2 separate regions of the Homo sapiens genome follow, and region 1 is linked to region 2. Evidence: fine-mapped expression QTL. A gene starts in region 2. The other region holds a variant in brackets. All regions are shown on one strand. Distances are from middle to middle.

What was found.
Region 1: its variant is fine-mapped to the expression of CUL5 in monocytes after LPS (Fairfax 2014, PIP 0.95). The same link has a PIP of 0.9 or more in NK cells, monocytes, monocytes after interferon gamma and neutrophils.

The regions. Positions count from the first base shown.
Region 1 is chr11:108,100,912-108,110,886 of GRCh38, forward strand. CUL5 (cullin 5) reads left to right here. Exons shown (of 19, transcript NM_003478.6): 19 at 3,279-6,850. The coding sequence ends at 3,473. Among named protein-coding and RNA genes, the nearest start is that of ACAT1, 16 kb to the right of the region's middle. The variant G/T (reference allele first, on the strand shown) is at 6,511.
Region 2 is chr11:108,003,265-108,014,373 of GRCh38, forward strand. CUL5 (cullin 5) reads left to right here and starts at 5,634. Exons shown (of 19, transcript NM_003478.6): 1 at 5,634-6,108. The coding sequence starts at 6,085. RefSeq lists enhancers at 5,759-5,858, 5,959-6,148.

The sequences.
Region 1 (9,975 bases), 97 kb after region 2:
CCAGCTACCCAGGAGGCTGAGGCAGGGGAATGGCTTGAACCTGGGAGGCGGAGGTTGCAGTGAGCGGAGATCGCGCCACTGCACTCCAGCCTGGCAACAGAGCAAGACTCCATCTAAAAAAAAAGAGTTGAAATGTATAAGCGGGTGTAGTCGTACGATAAGATGTGCAGAGAAATTGAAGTTCTTTTGTTTTGTCTTAATGTGACCCATAATTATGTACAATCCAATAATCTAAGCTGTCTTTAGGTAATGCTCAGACTTTATTTCCTCCTGATCCTACTCCATTCATCCTCATTCATTGCTATTTGCATAGGTGGCATCTGGATATATTGAGTGTGAGAGGGATTTGCTTGACTGGTAATGACAGTAAAGGGAGTGTCATATCTATGCAGTTATGACAGTGTCCTGGATTCTTGCTTTTGGCAGCTATGAAGTAGTTGATTATCTTTGGGAATTTGGCTTTCTGTTGGTAACTGCTGCTGTTGTCTACAGCAGATGAATTTATGGTTCATTCTTTTTCTAGTTGCTAAGGGCCCCATGGCCTCTTCCCTGCTCTCTTTCCCCTGCTCTTACTGAGCTCTTGAAGCCTCTGAGACTCCACTACATCTTCTGTGTGGCTCCTTGGCCTACATGGCACACTGTCATTGTTCTCTGCAGAATAATGACAGGATCACCTTGCCCTGTCATTAAAGGCCCTGTGGCAGGTCCATTAGCTCGAAACTCTTGCTGTCACACTTGGGAACTGAGGGAGAGTCAGAAGTGCAGATTATTTCCCTCATACTGTGCTACTCTTTAAGTGACCTCCAGCATATCAAATGGGGACCAGGGCCAGTGTCCCTCTGCTCTCTTTTCCTCTTAGGTTCTCTAACTACCACCTTCACCTCTATCTAAGGAGAAACTGGGATGTTTACAAATGCCTCTGCTTTTCCTCTGGGTTCCTGTAATCTTCAAGTGCCTGAAGGAACACACTTTCCTTCTTCCTTCTTCCTCTCTGAACCCCTGACATAAACCCCAATTTATGATGATCAGGAGCCTGGTATCTGAATACCATCAAGGGTGAGAGGAATTCACTTGACCTTCTGGTGTCATCATATCTTTTATTTATTTTTGTTTATTTTATTTTATTTTGAGACAGGGTCTCACCCTGTTGCCCAGGCTGGGGTGCAATGGTGTGATCTTGGCTCACTACAACCTCCACCTCCCAGGTTCAAATGATTCTCCTGCCTCGGACTCCTGAGTAGCTGGGATTAGAGGTGCTCGCCACCACACTGAGCTATTTTTTGTATTTTTTGTATTTTTAGTAGAGATGGGTTTCACCATGTTGGCCGGGCTGATCTCGAACTCCTGACTTCGTAATCCGCTCCCCTTGGCCTCCTAAAGTGCTGGGATTACAGGCGTGAGCCACCATGCCCGGCCTATTTTTCTATTCTTTTGAGACAGGGTCTCACTCTGTCACCCAGGCTGGAGTGCAGTGGTACAATCTCAGCTCACTGCAACCTCTGCCTTTCAGGCTCAAGTGATCCTCCTGACTCAGCCCCCTGCGTAGCTGGGACCACAGGCGCGTGCCACCATACCCAGCTAATTTGTTTTTGTATATTTTGTAGAGATGGGGTTTCGCCATGTTGCCTAGGCTGGTCTCAAACTCCACGACTCAAACGATCCACCCACCTCAACCTCCCAAATTGCTGGGATTGCAGGCATGAGCCACCCTCCCTGGCTGGTTATCATATCTATATAGGGGAAGTTGAAGGAGTTTTTCTCTTACTGAATAGTGCCTGACTCCCAAGTCTGTTGATTTGCAGCAAAATTATATTTTTAAACGTTAAAAGCAAATGTTACTTCTTTTTCTATTTTGACATTTCTTTTACAACAAACTCTAATCTGTGCTAAGATAGATATATGCCTTTTGTTTTGGAGACAGGGTCTCAGGCTGTGGTGCAGTGGTGTGATCTCAGCTTACTGCAACCTCCACCTCCCAGGCTCAAGCAATCCTCTTTCTTCAGCCTCCTGAATAGCGGGGACCACAGACACACGCCACCATGCCTGGCTAATTTTTGTATTTTTTATAGAGATGGGGTTTCGCCATGTTGCCCAGGCTGTTCTCAAACTCCTGGACTCAAGCAATCCACCCACATCACCCTCCCAAAGTGCTAAGATTACACACATGAGCCACCACACCCGGCATATACATGCCTTTTGTTGGGTAAAGAGAGAGCTGGTACTGGAAAAGGTAAAAGAGAAAAGAATATTTAATGATTTTCTGATAACTCTTATTGTAAACTTAACAGTAATTAAGGAAATCATCAAGAAAAATTTTGATAAAATGACCTAGATGAAAAAGATTTATTTCTTTAGAAACTTAAAAGTGACTGGGCATCGTGGCTTACACCTGTAATCCTAGCACTTTGGGAGACCAGGGCAGGGGAGTATTTGAGTCTGGGGGTTCAAGACCAACCTGGACAACATAGCAAAACCTTGTGTCTGTATTTAAAGAGAAGAAGGGGAAAAAAAAAACCTTAAAAACATTTAATTGAGTCAATATAAACTGAAGATAATATTTGTAGCAAATATAATTAATTAATCTGGTAAATATATAAAGAGTACTACTTAATGACTTTTAAAACAGACCCCACCTGACCTGTACTGCTATACAAAGAAATAACTGAATACAAGGGAAAAATTTGGTGTAAGGGGTTTGTTATATTTTAATTAATGTTTAACATGATACCAGGTTATATACACATTGTTTTCACAGGTAAGATAACTTTTAAGAATGTGAATGGCATGGGAAAAAAGGAATTGAAGGAAATAATATTAAAACATTAGGTGTAGTTTTCTTTCAGCAGAGAAGCAGAGGTAATTTTGCTTTTCCTTATTTTTCAAAATCTCTATAGTCAGATTTTTTTTAAATACATACTTTAAGTTCTGGGATACATATGCAGAATGTGCAGGTTTGTTACATGGGTATACACGTGTCATGGTCATTTGCTGCACCCATCAACCCGTCATCTACATGAGGTGTTTCTCCTAATGCTTATCCCTCCCCTATCCCCCCACCCCAATAAGCAGATTCTCTTTTATGGGGCATGAGAAAACAAAAGATGTTTTTATTTGTTAAGTAAAAGATACTAGTCTCAACATTAATCCCCTAGTGATTATTATTCATTTGGGTAGATGTTGGATAGAGGATGAATATGCATAAAAAGTCATTTTTCAGTTTGTTGTACTTAAAATAATTTCGTATATTAATGCGCTTTTATTTTTATTTTTTCTTTTAGGAAGCTATCATACAAATAATGAAAATGAGAAAGAAAATTAGTAATGCTCAGCTGCAGACTGAATTAGTAGAAATTTTGAAAAACATGTTCTTGCCACAAAAGAAAATGATAAAAGAGCAAATAGAGTGGCTAATAGAGCACAAATACATCAGAAGAGATGAATCTGATATCAACACTTTCATATATATGGCATAATTTTGAATATCATGGACAATATTTAGAACCCAAATTTTGGAGTGCTTGGGCAGAAAGTTGTAAAGTTTGTGCTGGAGAAAGGTTTATTTGGACTTTGATTACATAAATATTAAAATCTCTGCCTTACCTTACAAAAACAACTATATTTTGCCAATCACATTAGTTAGCATGATGGCATTCCCTTCATGTTGCACACTCTTTGACAGCATGCTGTTTTGTGGAGAAACTTGCATTCATGAAGAGCCCATTATCAACTTTTAAAAGTGAATTTGATTTGTACCCACCAGGAGAAATACAGTTGGGAAGGGTGAGGGTGGGGTTCTTGTTGCTTTTTTCTCTTTTTTCCTCTCTTAAAAAATGTACTTGCACAAGGAAGGATCTTCAGATATTCATGCACTGAAAAATGCTGTTATCTTTTGTTTTTAAAAAATGCAATTAAAACTAGAAATAGCACTCTTGGTTTCTTTTGATGAAAAGAGTGAGCTGGTCAATGCAACATTGGGAAACGGCAGATGTAGGTGAGAAGTTAAGTATTTAATAGTATCAAATTGTTCAAACATTGCTCAGTATAATAACTGGATTTTAATGGTGACCTAAAAATGGTATTAAATATTTTCAACTTTCAAATGTTGGTTTTCTTTAAGCAGGAGACTGCTATTTTAGTTGTTGTTAAATGATGAGGAGTTTTTTTTTTTTTAAATATGGCTGGAAAGCTTGTTTTGAAAAATGAAGCTTATATTAATTGTTGCTTCAATAGTTTAAAAAATTTATGGAGATAGGTAGGTCATTATGATTGCAGAGCCAAAATAGCAAAACAAACATATTAAGTGTGTTTACTAAACATATTGTGTGTTTACTAACACACTTAATGTTTATATACCTAATATTTATTATGCCATATCTGAATTTATTAAAAACAACACAGAAATCTCCTGCTCTGATATAGTTATGTAACTGATCTCTTAATCTGTAGCATAGAAGTATTTTGGTATTTTAAGGTCTCATGATTAGGGATTTGTAGCCTCAGGTTTGAATCAGTCACCTAGGGGTAAGAGAAAAACCACAACATAAGACCTGAAAAACAGAAGCAAAATTGTTGCACTCTTAATACGAGCAGTAAACTTGCCAAATATATGTACATATATATTTATATATTTTAAAAATAAACATTTTTTAAATCGTCAGAAGGCAACATTTACCATGTTCCTTTCAGTCTATCCAAAGTAGCAACTTAACTAGTTGCTGGCAACTGAATACCCAGAGTAGTGGAAATTTTAGGACTTGAGGACGTGAACAACTTGAAAGAGAAAATTGATTCCCCTTGAGGAAAGAATGGCTCAACGTGGATTTTTATTCATTGTGGTGCACGTTTCAAATTTTCTTGCAAATTATTTTATATCTTATTTGATGTTAAGTAATATTTTTAAAGTATGGTTTTTGAAGATAGTAGGAAATGGAGTACAGAAAGGCATACAGTATTATGTTACAGTGGAGTGCTTTCAAGAGCATTTCGTAGGATCTGTCCCCATCCGAAGAGGCTTTGTGAACTGCCTGCTGAATGGAAGGAAAGCAACTTTAAAACATTTAGAGTTTTGCTGAGTATAGCCAAATGCCTGTTCTGAAACTTATAGGAAATTGGAATTTTGTTTAAAATTTTACACTTTAAGGTAGCAAATGTCAATTATTAGACCGAGCATATTGTGAAGAATTAAACTAAAATTAATACGTACAGTTTTCTCTAATTAGGTGACTGTTCATAATGGGTATATTTGGAATTTAGAAGAAATAATTTTGTAGTAATTGTGGCCCTTATGTTTAACAGATAATTCAGCATTGGCGTATTTGCTTGTCCCAATACAAGAATGCCAAAGGAGGAAACAGGAAAAATTGCCGTCCATTTTAAAAATTTAGGTTTGTTGTTTTAAACCATAATTGTTCTCAGAACTTTTTTGGAACTTCTAATTTTGGGTCATTTAATTTAAGAATGAGAGTCATGATGTTTTGATTTATGAAGGTGAATTTAATGCAAAAGTGGGTAACACTACATTCATAGCAAAGTTTTTTATTAAATTTTATAAATTTTTAATAGCCAATTATGTCCTAATTGTATTTTGGGGAATGAACAGCAGCAAATACTGTAAATGTACAGTTTTCTTTTTTTTTTTTTTTTGGTTATGTATACAAAAGTTTTAACTACTTTTTGGTGTTTATGAAAATCATTTAGTTGACAAGGTGCCTATGCCATTGTTAAATTTTCTTTAAGTAATTTAACAACAGATTTGCTAATTTAAAAAAAAATGAAAAAAAAAATCTTACCAGCAGTTTGTAAAGGTCTGGAATCACAGTTGGCATCCTTTATTCAGGTCTCTTCTCTCCAGCGTACACTTAAAATTGGTGCCGAGCAGGGATATAACCTGCAGTTAAGTGAAAAGAAAATCCAGCCTCCCCCTCCAAAAAAAAAAAAAAAATTTAATTTTTAAAAATTAGTGGTATGGCAATAAGACACTTCAGAGGCTATCTTAACCTCTGAATACCCATCTTCTAGTTTAAAGACAGAGACATCCCATCTGGAAAATGTTAACTTGTGTTGCCATCTCGTTGCCGGAGTAAGTAGACATAAGACAGAGTTTAAGAAGTAAAAATATAGAAAAATTTTGATGGTCACAATGAGATAAATATTAGAATATTACTATTCCAATGATTAAATGAGGATCTTGAAATAAATTCTGAAGTCTTCCAATTTTTACATTTATTGGAGGGGTCCCTGAGTTCTGTCAACTTTTTTATTTAAGTCTCTTGCTCTTATTTTGTGCATAAATGTTAAACCTTCCAAAAATGAAATGTTAGCTTTCTTTCTTTTACTTTTTATTAAATTTAATAGAAAATATGACCTGAGTAGTTAAAAAGTATTTTGCATTATTTGCAGTAAGATGTCTCTAGCACTGCTCAAAGGGCAAATTTTAAAACTTCAGTCTGGGTGAAAGATTTGCTAGTTTTACAGAAAGATTTGCTATCTTAAACTCAAGCTGGTTTTTCT[G/T]TTCTCATGTAAGTGACTGGGATGCTGTCTTATGAATTCTTCCAAGGTCATGTTTGTGAAATAAACATTACATGAGAGCTTTCCTGTCATCTACACTATATGTTGTCTGGAGTGTTGAACAAATTTATTTTAGTTTCTAAGTTGTAATCTATCCTCATATGGTCTATACGATTTTGAATGTGTGCCACTACATACTGAGATGATAATGCTGTACAATTTTAAGTGGTAGCAGTTTCTGTATGCAGTAGGCTGAAATATTTTGATGAACTGCTTAATTTTTGGATTTTATTTTTTAAGTTGTATAATTTATTTTCTTGCAAAATAAAAATGTAATATAAAAGCTTTTACCTATCCAGAAAATGTTGATGTTCTACTATAAAATAGTTACAAAGAGTTTAATTAAAATTTTTATAGTAGGTATATTTTTAAATTTGAAGGTAAATTAATCTCAGCCAGCCTTAGGAATCAGAAATATGAAAAGTAACCCACTTATTTATATTAGACTTCAAATTCTAATTCAAAATGAGAGCAGTCAGGAATGTAGCTTTTCCACTGATGATAGCATGTGGCTATATGCCTGGAAGAGGTAATAAAAAAAAAAAAATTCCAACCTGAAAGTGGTTAATATATTCATCAACTAAGATAGGCTATGTCATAACAAAATTCAAATTTTATAGCAGATAAAAGTAAAAAATGGGCCGGGCTCAGTGGCTCACGCCTGTAATCCCAGCACTTTGGGAGGCCAAGGTGGGTGGATCACCTGAGGACAGGAGTTCAAGACCAGCCTGGCAAACATGGTGAAACCCTGTCTCTACTAAAAATATAAAAATTAGCCGGGTGTAGTAGCGCGCGCCTGTAGTCCCAGCTACTCGGAAGGCTAAGGCAGGAGAATCGCTTGAACCCGGGAGGCGGAGGTTGCAGTGAACCAAGATTGTGCCACTGCACTCCAGCCTGGGCGACAGAATGAGACTGTCTCAAAAAAAAAAAAAAAAAAAAAAAAAAAGTAAAAAATGTAAAACATAATCATTTCACATTTTGGATATATTTGAAAATTTGTGAAATACTTATTTTTGTTTTTATTTTTATTTTTTGAGACAGAGTCTCACTTTGTCACCCAGGCTGGAGTGCAGTGGCGCGATCTCGGCTCGCTGTAAGCTCCATCTCCTGGGTTCATGCCATTCTCCTGCGTCAGCCTCCCGAGTAGCTGGGACTACAGGCGCCTGCCACCACACCTGGCTAATTTTTTGCAGTTTTAGTGGAGACAGGGTTTCACCATGTTAGCCAGGATGGTCTCAATCTCCTGACCTCGTGATCTAGCTGCCTCGGCCTCCCAAAGTGCTGGGATTACAGGTGTGAGCCATCGCGTCTGGCCTGAAATACTTATTTTTAAGCTAGAAATAGTTTGGCAATAAGGTTGTGAAACTGGACAGATAATAGCAATTAGTTACTGATCAAGTGAACAATTTAATAATCGAAAAAACTCTTGACTATAAGAAACTTGAATTGCATACAGGGACTTAATTACCCAGAGGAACTAAATTTAAAAGAAATTTCAGGCTGGGCGCAGTGGCTCACACCTGTAATCCCAGCACTTTGAGAAGGTGAGGTGGGCAGATCACTTGAGGTCAGGAGTTCAAGAACAGCCTGGCCAACATGGCAATACCCCATCTCTACTAAAAATACATACCTGTAATCCCAGCTACTCAGGAGGCTGAGGCATGAGAATCACTTGAGCCTGGGAGGTGGAGGTTGTAGCAAGCTGAGATCGCACCACTGCGCTCCAGCCTGGGCAACAGGGCCAGACTAATTCATTCATTGATTCATAAATAAATGTTATAGAGCTCCTTTACATTGAGGGATCATTTCTTGTTCCTACTGTAGTAGTCAATAAATGTTTTGGACAACTGGATGGAGGAACACATTTGACTTCATAACGACTCTAAACTCAACCTTGGACTTAAACTGGCATTTGGGAGTTTGGGGTTGGGGGAGGAGTTGACTTGGAAATGAAGCTAGAGAAGGTATTTTCTCAGTATAAAATTTCATCTGAACCAAGAAACAGATTTCATTTAAACCAAGAAATAAGCTTAAGCTTTTGGGCCCCTTGTACAAGGCTCTGGGAGGGGGAGCCCTACAAGTTTTGTATTTTCTTAAAGAGGGTCCTCAAAATATCAAGTTGGATTCAGCCCTGTTAAACCTCAGTGTAAAAAGGGCACATAGTAGGACTGAATGAATGATAGCACATGTGCCTGAGAATATAGTTCAATGTTTTAGTTCTTTTTTTTTTTTTTTTTTTTTTTTTGAGATAGAGTTTCTGTCACCTAGGCTGGAGTGCAGTGGCACAATTGCAGATCATTGCAGCCTTGAACTCCTGGGCTCCAGTGATCCTCCCACTTTAGCCTCCTGAGTAGCTGGGACCACAGGCACACACCACCTAGGTAATTTTTTTTTTATTTGCCTAGGTAATTTTTTTTTTATTTGCGGAGAGGAGGTCTCACTATGTTGCCCAGGCTGGTTTCGAACTCCTGAGTTCGAGCAGTCCTCCTCCCTTGGCATCCAGGAGTGCTGGGATTACAGGCATGAGCCACCGCACTCGGCCAATATTTTACATTTTAAGTGTGGAGACTTTATTTCCCATTCCCCATTCTGGGCTATACAATAGAATATGGACTTTTTATATCACGGAACTCCTGTTTTGACAGTGTACAACCCAGAGCAGGGTGACAATTTAGATTAACAATTGATGGTGAGAGTTGAGTTCTAGACTTTTGTGAACATCTGATTAAAGCAAAATACATGCATATAAAAATATAAACAAGTGCATATATAAATGTTAAGAGTTAACACACCCAAGCTTAGAAATCTTTAATAGTGATGTCCTGGAGTGCGTAAAATGAGTAACAGCTTGCTTTGTGGATTGGTCATGGCCTAACTTCAGGAGCGCTGATCCAAACTTTGATTTGCTCTACTTATCTAGAGAATAACAGAAGACTTCTCTGAGTGTTAATGGCTTCTTCCTATTTTACTTAATAATAAAGGAAATAGAGTATTTCCTTTTTTCCTTTATTATGCTGTAATTACTGAGCCAGACTGATACTGTTTAGATTTTTCTTCAGCAGTGGTTGATGGTCGAGGTGTGGCTCACACCTCTAATCCCAGCACTTTAGGAGACTGAAGCAGGAGGATCACTTGAAGCCAGGTTCAAGACCAGCCTGGGCAGCATAGTGAGGCCCCCATCTCCACAAAAATGTAAAAATTAGCCAGCGGTGGTTGGTTGCACAAACCTGTAGTCCCAGCTACTCAGGAGGCTGAGGCTGCAGTGAGCTGTGATTGTGCCACTGCACTCCAGTCTAGGGAACAGAGTGAGACTCTGTCTTAAAAATAAGTGGAACTTGGGAATACTTTAACATGTTGTTTTCCCATGGCTGCTAAATGTATAATTATTAATATTTACCCCTACTCTAC
Region 2 (11,109 bases):
CGGTACTTTGACCCTACTGTTTTTTCACTGTTCTTTGCCTCCTAATTCAGCTTAAATCCAAGGGTCGATCATCATACTCACTCCCTTGTATATATGCTCAATGCCCTCCATCATTCTCTCTCGGCAAAACCCCAACTTTGGTTACATCCAATTCTACGCCTGCACCCGAGTGGCTGAATATGTCTTTTGAATCAAACAGGTCCTGCCACGTAGGAGCTGTGAGACCTTAGGCACATTACTTAACCCTGGTGAATGTTAATTTCCTTAGCTATGCTGAGAGACCTCAATTAAAATCTGGGATAACTAGTCTCAAGTTGGCACTTAGGGATGCCCAGGAATCATTATATATTTCTCTTTCCTCTTCCACCATCATAGATAACAATTTCCCATCTTCTCCTTTTCTCCTTTCTTCTTAAACCTCACAGCATCCTCACTATCAGCTCATGACCTGGCTTCCAACTTCAATTAGAGAAGAGAAGCAATCGGAAGAGAATCTTCACTTCCAAGAGCCTATCGACGGTCTCGTGTCTATCCTCCTAGTAGGTGTGACTGTCCATGGTGCTAGCCAAGGTGCACCTCTCCCCATGTGTGCCCTAAGTGCCATCCTCTTGCCTTATCAAGAACATGGTTCTAGCACATTTTCTCCTTTCTATCCTTTCCATCATCATTTTTCCCCTTCTAAATGATGGATCATTCACATCAGCTACCTGACTCTTCCTCTTCTCAGGTGTGAAGTTTAAAAGATACTTAAGGCCGGGCGCAGTGGCTCACGCCTGTAATCCCAGCACTAAGGGAGGCCAAGGCGGGTGGATCACCTGAGGTCAGGAGTTCGAGACCAGCCTGACCAACATGGAGAAACCCCATCTCTACTAAAAATACATTAGCCAGGCATGGTGGCACATGCCTGTAACCCGGGAGGCAGAGGTTGCAGTGAGCCAAGATTGCACCATTGCACTCCAGCCTGGGCAACAAGAGTGAAACTCTGTCTCAAAAGAAACAAACAAAAAAAGATACTTAAGGTCTCCACAAGGAGGAATTAAATTCCTACATCAAATGTATTCATCTATGTAAAGTGCATAGAACTGTGTCTGACATATGGTAAGCATTATATGTTTTAGGTCTTATTATTACTACATTTACTGAGTGCTTACACGTGCAATACATTTTTTTCCTTTTTCTTTTTCTTTCTTTTTTTTTTTTTTGAGACAGAGTCCCGCCCTCTCACCCAGGCTGGAGTGCAGTGGTGCAATCTCGGCCCACTGCTCAACTCCCGGGTTCAAGCGATTCTCCTGCCTCAGCCTCCCCAGTAGCTGAGATTACAGGCACCCACCACCATGCCCAGCTAATTTTTGTATTTTTAGTAGAGACGGGGTTCCGTCATGTTGGCCAGGCTAGTCTCAAACTCCTGACCTCAGGTGATCTGCCCGCCTTGGCCTCCCAAAGTGCTGGGATTACAGGTGTGAGCCACTGTAATACATTACATTACAGATACAGACAAGGAAACTATGACTCAGCAGGGTTAAGTAATGTACCCAACGTCTCGTAGCTCATAAATGGCAGGATCTGTTTGGTTCTAAAGCACACATTCTTAAGTATTCTATGAGAAATTCTGGGCCACTGATGCACAAGAATTCTTGGCCACTGGTGTACAAGGAAAGTCACCTGGGATGCTTAGGGAAAAGGTAGATTTGGGGCCTCACTCCTGACCTGTAGAATCAGAATCTTCAGAGGGTAGAGCCTAGAAATCTGCTTTTAAAATAAGCACCCCAGGTTATTTTGATGTAAATGATCAGCCACATTTGACAAACTCCTTTATATATATTTTACTGCATACACAGAAAACAAATGAGAAGAATAAAACAAATGGCTAACAGTGGATATTTTAGGAGGTGGGAGAGAAAAGTTTATAGAGAACTTTCATTTTGTAAGGTATTATGGTTTAACATGATGGCTACATTTTCTTAAATTAGCAGGTGATTTTTTTTTTTTTTTGGAGACGGAGTTTCGCTCTTTGTTGCCCAGGCTGGAGTACAATGGCGTGATCTCGGCTCACCACAACCTCCCACTCCCGGGTTCAAGTGATTCTCTTGCCTCAGCCTCCCAAGTAGCTGGGATTACAGGCATGTGCCACCAAGCCTGGATAATTCTGTATTTTTAGTGGAGACAGGGTTTCTCCATTTTGGTCAGGCTGGTCTCGAACTCCCGACCTCAGGTGATCTGCCCACCTCAGCCTCCCAAAGTGCTGGGATTATAGATATGAGCCACTGTGCCCAGCCAGCAGGTGATTTTTAAAAAGATTTTAAATAAATAGAAGTAAAATTATCCCATTTTCTACTACTCACAAACACTGGTAACATTTTGAATATTTTTTCCAGTTTATCCACTATTCAGAGTAGGAAATAAAACTGTAGCTTTCTTTCTTTACAAAGTTGGAATTGTGGCACATATGTGGAATTTTGCATCCTATATTTTTACCTATTATATTCTGAGCATTTTCCCATGTAATTAATCACATAAGAGGCTATGAAATATAAGAAGGAATGGTTGATTTTTATATATGTCTTATATAAATATAAGAAGAAACATATGCTCATTTCTACTTGCCAACATAATTTCACGAAGCCCCTCTTACAACTTAAAAGCTTTGACTTTTAAGGTCAAAGGTGAGGTATGATGGCTCACAGCTGTAATCCCAGCGCTTTAGGAGGCTGAGGTGGGAGGATTGCTTGAAGCCAGGAATTTGAGACCAGCCTGGCCAATATGGTAAAACCCCATTTCTATACAAAAATTAGCCGGGCTTGGTGGCTCACATCTGTAATTCCAGCTATTCAGGCCGCTGAGGCGTTGAGAATCGCTTGAACCTGGGAGGTGGGAGTTGCAGTGAGTGGAGATCATGCCACCTCACTCTATCCTGGGCGATAGAGCAAGACTCTGTCTCAAAAAGAAGAAGAAGAAAAGAAAGTGTGAAAAAAAAAGGCACAAATTTTTTTTTCAGTAATTTATACCATACTGCTGAGTGAAAACAAATATGTTAAAGAATATATGTAGTATACCATCATTTGTGGGGAGAGAAAAAATAATACATACATGAATGCTTATACATGCACAGAATGTCCTAGGCATTCACAAGAAACATAACTGTTGTCTATGAGAAGAAAGAATGGATGCCTGGGGGACTGTGGAGGAAGGCAGGCCTATTTTTTAAAAATTTTCCCCGAATATTTAATTATGAAAAATTTTAAACATATAGATGAGTTGGTTTTACACAGGGAACCCTAGCATAGCCACCACCTAGACTCTACCATTAACATTTTACTATACTTGCCATATATATATATATATATATATATATATATACATACTTTTTTTTTTTTTTTGAGACAGAGTTTCACTCTTGTTGTCCAGGCTGAAGTGCAGTGGCGCAATCTTGGCTCACTGCAACCTCTGCCTCCTGGGTTCAAGCTATTCTCCTGCCTCAGCCCCCTGAGTAGGTGGGATTATAGGTGCCCGCCACCACTCCCGGCTAATTTTTTGTATTTTTAGTAGAGACAAGGTTTCACCATGTTGGCCAGGCTGGTCTTGAACCCTTGATCTCAGGTGATCCACCTGCCTCGGCCTCCCAAAGTGCAGGGATTACAGGCGTGAGCCACCACGCCAGGCCCGCTTTATCAGTGTTTCTACCCAACCATCAGTTCATCTTATTTTTTGATACATTTCCAAGTAAATTATAAATATAGATTCACTTACTCCTAAATTCTTCAGTATGGGTAGCATTAAACTTCAAATTTTGTTAACTATTTTCTCTTTGAATTAAATGCACATTTTTTAAAAATTTTATTATTTTTTATAGCGATAGCTACTTTGCACAGGCTGGTCTCGAACCCCTGGGCTCAAGTGATCTGCCTGCCTTCGCCTCCCAAAGTGCTGGGCTTACAGGATTGCACCACTGTGCTTGGCTGAAATGCATAAATCTTAAGGGTATACTGGCTGAGTTTTGACAAGTGCATACACCTGAATAACTGAAGTCCCTACCACAATATAGAACATTACATCACCCCAGAAAGTCGAAGGAAGACTACTTTTGATTGTATTATTTTTAGCACCTTCTGAATTTTGTATTATGTGCCTGCGCTATTTTTAAGAAATAAATATTTAAGCATTTTAAATATTTAAACATTTTTATAACAGTGGGCCGATTCTAAATTGGATGAGAAAGAGTGAAAACAGGAGATGGCAGATAACAGGTGGGGTCAATGGAATGGAGAACTTATTGAAGTCAGAGTTGTAGCAGTGGTGTTTCCAGAACAAGTGAGTTAGGAAAATTGGAATGCTTCGGTTGACAGTAGGACGCTGAAATCAAGCTCTCAAAAGTTGTCTTAAGGTTCAGTTAAGCATAAGCAAAGGGTGGCTTGGGTAGATGGAGATTAGGATACTAGTTTCCTTTCCCTTCCTACGCTCTCAAGTGCACACTGTATTTTTTTGTTTGTAGTTTTTTTTTGTTTTTTTTGTTTTTTTTTTGAGACAAGAGTCTCGCTCTGTCGTCCAGGCTGGAGTGCAATAGCGCGATCTCGGCTCACTGCAATCTCCACCTTCAGGGTTCAAGCGATTCTCCTGCTTCAGCCTCCCGAGTAGCTGGGATTACAGGTGCCCGCCACCATGCCCGGCTAATTTGTGTATTTTTAGTAGAGACAGGGGTTCACCATGTTGGCCAGGCTGGTCGCGGACTCCTGACCGCAGGTGTCTCGGCCTCCCAAAGTGCCGATTATAGGCGTGAGCCACGGGGCCCTATAGGGATTATAGGCGTGAGCCACTGCGCCCGGCCTCTTTGCAATATTTATCACAACTCCCACTAAGTAATATTTGACTTGTGTAGCCATCCTTAACATTTGGCTACCTTATTAGGCCATAAACTCCAAACGAGCAGGGGTCTTCTCTTTTATTTAATCCTGTATTTCCTGTGCCTAGTATATACAAGTGCTCAAACAAGTATTAACTACTTGATTGGATTCTTTAAGTAGGCCCATCCCTCTTCTCTTAGTCCAGAGCTCTTACTTATTTCTACGCATTATGGCCGTATGAAGGCTGTTTGTAAACCTGCAAAATACAATACCAGGTATCCTGCAGGTTCCACATGTAAATTATATTATCTCATTGGCCAGTGGTGTGTGGTCTGAAGGGGTAAAACCCGGAGGCTTATGGTTTAGGATCTTCTAGGATAATGTGCCTTCAGAAAATCGAAGATTAATATTCATTCTCTAAACAATCTTTTTTTTTTTTTTTCAAACTTTTTTGTAATGACGAGGGTGTTGAACTGGCCTCAAGTGATCCTCCCCCTTCGGCCTCCCAAAGCACTGAACAATATTTTATCTAAGTGCCAAGCATTCCTGAATAGAAATATTAAGAGTCATCACGCTTGTGCAGTCAACACATATTTACTGGGCGCATTCTATGCACGAGTTATTGAAGACAGCTGTTGTAAGCATTTCAGGACAATGCACCTCCCTTAACACCGAGTCCGGGATTTGGGGCGGGGTGCCGGAAAACGCCAGGTCCCGCCAGCAGAGGGCACGGTCCCGGCCTCGCTGCAGCCTCGGGACCCACCGAGGCTTCCAGGCTCCCACGCTCGCTCCCGAGCGCGTCCCCGCCCTCGCGTCACGTGACGTGGCCGCGGAACCTGAGCTGCGGGGCCTAAGCCGAGCTAAATTCGTTGCAGGTGGCCGCGGCGGGTGCAACCACAAAGGCTAATCCGAAGGAGTCGGGGAGGCTCGTGGAGTCGATGCTTCCTCTTCCAAGTCAGGTCGGCTCCCGTTACCTTCTCAGCATTCGCCGTTCCGGTCTTCCTGAGCGCGTGCATGAGGTCTTTCGCGTGGGGAAGCTCCGGTGACCATGTAGGGGAGAAGAGTGAGGAAGCTCCTGGTGCTTGGGACGAGGTCAGCGCTGTCGGCGCGCTGCTCCAGCGCCCACCACACCCTGGTGCGGGCCGACGGGCCCTGGGCCCTGGTGGGAGCTCCGGCCTCCGGTCAAGGCCTGGCCGGGAGCGCCACGAATTCTCGCGTCGTCTCGCGAGAGTCCAAGTTAAAGAACATGGCGACGTCTAATCTGTTAAAGGTAAGACCCTCACTCCAGCTTGGGTTTTACTGTGTGGCCGCCGGGTTCGGCTCTTTGGGAAAGGCACGGCTCAGGTTCAGCTGCGAAGTGTGGGAGTGTTCAGGGGTTGTCCACTGGCAGGGAAGCCGCGGTGGCAGCCGGCGAGTACCGGAACGCGGGTCTGTGGCCTTGGGGTCGACAGGCTCTGGTGGTCGCTCCCGCCGACTGGCCGCTGGGAGAAAAGCCTGGCTGAGCGCTGGCGAGGAGCGATGCTTTCAAGGGACCAGCTCTGGCCGGGAGCGGGAGATGAATGGTCGTGCGGTGTCCTGACCAGCTGGGCCGTTAGTACTGTTAGGTCTCAGTTTCTTGTAAAGCAATGTCTAAGACGCATCAAAGGAAAAACCAAGAAAATGCTGCCTAACAGGTTTCAGTGACTCGACCCCCCACTTCTTCCATTTCTGTTCTCGTTCTGTCTGCACGAAATTCCGAGTCAGACCAGCAGTGCCTCCCACTCCACCCCCCTTCCTCCCTTTTCTGCGTGTTACACCTTCCCTCCTAATTCTCCCATTCTTGAGTTCATCTTTTTCCTTAGGAAACTGCTTTCTAACCCCCACCCAGTTACAGGACACAACCAGATGACAACTGATGAAGCGATACCATCGTTTTAGGGCGCAGGAAAGTTACCTTGTCAAAGACAGTATTTAAAGTTAGTTTTATATAGCAAGGGAGATCTAGGCCCACAGGGGCAGATTCTCCACCAGTTAAAAAGTTTGGAGAAGAATGAGGAAGACTTAGAACTAGTCTGTTCTGTGTATGTGTCTGTAGTAGTTAATCATTTGCCTTAAAAGTACGGACAGAAATGGGGGTAGTGAATAGCTCAGGGAACATAATATTAATGGCAAAAACCGCAGTCACTTTTGCACCAGCCTAATACAAAGGATGAACCACTTCTTCCTGAGGCCTCTCATGCCTTCAGGCAATGTGGATGAATACTAGAAAATAATAGAAAATATACAGGAACCTAACCATCATGTCTTCTTTAGACCACTGATATTTGATTGTCTAATAGATGGGACTGTCTCATAAAATGAAGAACAAATTTTACTAAGAGGCAGTACTGTATATCACCTTTTAAAAGGGAGAGGGGCCCTAGAATTAGACTCCCTGAATAGCCACCACTTAAAAGCTGTATGACTTTGGGCAAGTTTCCTTATGAGTAGGACAGCATTATCAGTAGCGCCTGTATCATAGGAACATTGTGAAGATTAAATTAGTTAATATATCTATAATGCTTAAAACAGTGCCTGGCACTTAATTAGTATAATACAATAAATTACTATAACTACTCCCCCTCTTTCTTTAAGAAAACTAATTCGGGGAATTGAGTAACCCATCCCACTCTGCTTTTCTCTTTTATAATGGTATAGCAAATTTCTCATGCTTTACTTCAGAAAGAAAATTTGTGGGCTGGGCACAGTGGCTCACTCCTGTAATCTCAGCTCTTTGAGAGGCCAAGGTGGGAGGATTGTTTTAGATACATTAATTTAATCTTCACAGTGTTCCTACAATATAGGTGCTATTGATAATTCTGAGTTAGAGGTTATAGTTAACTATGATCACGCCACTGCTCTGTGAGACTCTAAATGAAAAAAGAAAAGGAAAGAAAATTTGTTTTATTTCTGAAGACTCCTATTAATGCATCTGTGTGTTTACATAAACAGTATGCTATTAATTGAAACGTGTTTAAGAAGTAATTTTGTCCGTGATTCTGGAAAATTTTGACTTGTTGATTACCTGGATATAAAGCAAGGTCTTTTTCTCCCGAAAAATAACTCTCAGAAAAGAGTAAGTCACTGTTCTACTTACAAAACCTCACAAAGGATTGTTTGGAGGAGAAGCTACTTTGGTCTATATTAGTTAAGTACTTACCTGTGGAAGCTATTTTGGTTCATATTAGTTAAGTACTTACCTGTGGAAGCTACTTTGGTTCATATTAGTTAAGTACTTGTGGAAATTCTGAATCTACATCCACAGCACAGACCTGTGAATGGGAAAACTGCCTGAATATACAGAAAACGGGGTACTTAGGGTTTAGGTTTAAAAGCTCACAAGAATTTAAAAAGTGTTTTAACTTGAACATTTACAAATAAAGGGAAGGTGATAATATTTTGAAAAAAAGTAAGTGACTCAGTGACTCTAGTGAACTTTCTTGATGTGTAACTTAGAAGTTAGAAGCCAATGTCATAAAAAAAACCACCAGCTTTTCTTTCTTTTTAATTTTTTTTTTTTTGGAGGGGGACGGAGTCTCGCTCTGTTGCCAGGCTGGAGTTCAGTGGTGCGATCTTGGTTCACTGCAACTTCCGCCTCCCGGGTTCAAGCGATTCTTCTGCCTCAGCGTCCCGAGTAGCTGGGACTACAGGCGCACGCCACCACGCCCAGCTAATTTTTGTATTTTTAGTAGAGACAGGGTTTCACCATGTTGGCTAGGATGGTCTCCATCTCTTGACCTCATGATCCACCCTCCTCGACCTCTCAAAGTGCTGGGATTATAGGCGTGAGCCACCATGTCTAGCTGCTTTTCTTTTTTAATATTGGAATTTGACTCTAATAATTTTATTGTCTGTTTAAAGCAAGTGGACTATTGCTGGATCTTAGAAGTCTTTCAGCTATGTAAAGATTTGTGTAGCACATTTTGACATATACAGTTAACTGCTTAGGGGTTTTGTATCTCTGAAAACCTTTCCATGTAACTACTTTATCTTTGTTGTTTTTCCTTACAGAGTGAGTCTGTAGAACATTTGTAGGGATCTGATATTATAATTTTATCTTCTGTTTTAGATTACTTTGAACATGTAATTGTGATTGTTCCTTTTCTTTTGCAATTATCATCTGGGCCCTTAGTGCTCATTTTTTTCATTTCCAGTTTATTGTTCCACCCCAAACAGCAATTGTTTAAACCTTTTCTTGCTGAGCCTCACCCCTCTTAATTCTTAGTACATTACTTTACCCAGCTATTTGAAGTGCCCTTAACTTCCTTGGTCGATACCAAACATTTTTCTTGTTTCTCCTATGTTCTTCTCTGTTCCATGCTACCTCCCAAATTGTCTCATTCTGCTTGTTCTTTTTCAGTCCTCATCTTCCCCCCAGGACTTGGTGGTATGTCCCCTCTTACTTTTTTTTTTTTTTTTTCAGTTTCCCTTTTTTCTCCTATGCCTATAAGAAAGTTCATATGTCGCGTCATATAAACTTTTCTTTTTTTTGGAGATGGAGTTTCGCTCTTGTTGCCCAGGCTGGAGTGCAGTGGTGTGGATCTCCACTCACTGCAACCTCCGCCTCCCAGGTTCAAGCAATTCTCCTGCCTCAACCTCCTGAGTAGCTGGGATTACAGGCACACGCCACCACACCCAGCTTATTTTTGTATTTTTAGTAGAGACGGGATTTTACCATATTGGCCAGGATGGTCTCAAACTCCTGACCTCAAGCGATCCGCCTACCTCGGCCACCCAAAGTGTTGGGATTACAGGCGTGAGCCACTGCACTCTGCCTCCTCATACAAACTTGTACTCTGCCTCTGCCTCAAACTTCTGTTTCTCACTGTCACAGTTCTTGGAAAAGCAGCCCCCATTTGCTGCCTTTATAATTCTTTGCCCTTTAACTTAATGATATGGCTTACTCTTCTCTCCCACCCAATTGTATAGAACCTGTCAGTCATAAAAGTATTAGCAACCTCCTGATTATCAAATGAGATTCTTCTCTGATAATATTTATCCTCTTTTCTGGTATTATTGCTCATTTCCTCTGCTTCTCTTTTGGTTTTTATGACATTCCCTCCTTGGTCTTCTCTCTCTCAAATCACGTTTGTTTTTCACTGACTTCCCTCCCCTGTCCCCAATAGAATTATTTCTCAGGATTTTATCTTCAGCCCTTTTCTATCTTTGTATATTTTTTTCTGGGACAGTCTTAACTCCCATGATTTCACTATTTTTATCTCTTAGCTCTGATCTGAGCTCTAGATCAAAATGCAGTTCTCACCATATCACTTTCCTGTTCAGATACCTTTGATGATTCAAATTATTTGAGATCTTTCCAGCTGGGTCTTCTCCTGATAACTAGTATTCTCTCTCTCTGTCTCTTGTCTCTCTCTCTCATACATGTGTGCGTACACACTCCTACTTAGCTGGTTACTTGTTGGCTCACTAGCATGCCAGAGGTCGTCATCTCCCTAATAACTAACTCTTAACTTTCATTCTCTCTCCTTCTGATTGGATCTAGTGAGATGGAGGCACAAGAAGGCAGTAGTATATAACCGAACCACAAGATAAATCAAACTTTAAACTGAAATATGATTCATACTACTTTTCTCAGTGGACTTTTTTTTATCCTTTAAGAGGAAAGAAAATGGAAATGTAAAGCAGTGATTCAGAGTGTCTATAGAGGCCGGGCATGGTGGCTCATGCCTGTAATCCCAGCACTTTGGGAGGATGAGGTGAGAGGATTACCTGAGGCCGACCTGGGCAATGTAGCAAGACCCTGTCTCTATAAAACAACAACAATAAAAAGTGCCTGTAAAAGTTATTCATTATTAAAATAACTTTATTGACATCCATATGCAAGGTACCATGGAGAATGCAAAGATATGTAGAACAATGTCCATGCTCTTTGGGAATTTACCATATGCTAAAGGAGAGTAAAAGGTACTAATGATTTATGATAAGGCAAAAGTTTCAGATGTGTTACCAACTGCTCTATGCTCCCTCACAGATTGAGGAAATAATTTCTGGTGGGATGATCAGTGAAAATTTTATGGAGAAAGTGTTGGAGCTGGATTTTGAATAAAGTGTTGGAGCTGGATTTTGAATAATGGGTAAGCTTTTTGTATTGGTAATTAGGAGAAAATTTGGTAGGAATCTAGGCTAGATCAGTGTGGCTGCAGTGTAAGCAGGGCTGCATGCTGTGTTAGATATTCTATATGAATAGTGTTCCTTGGGATTGTTGCAGCATAGAAACCCAGAATACAGGGAA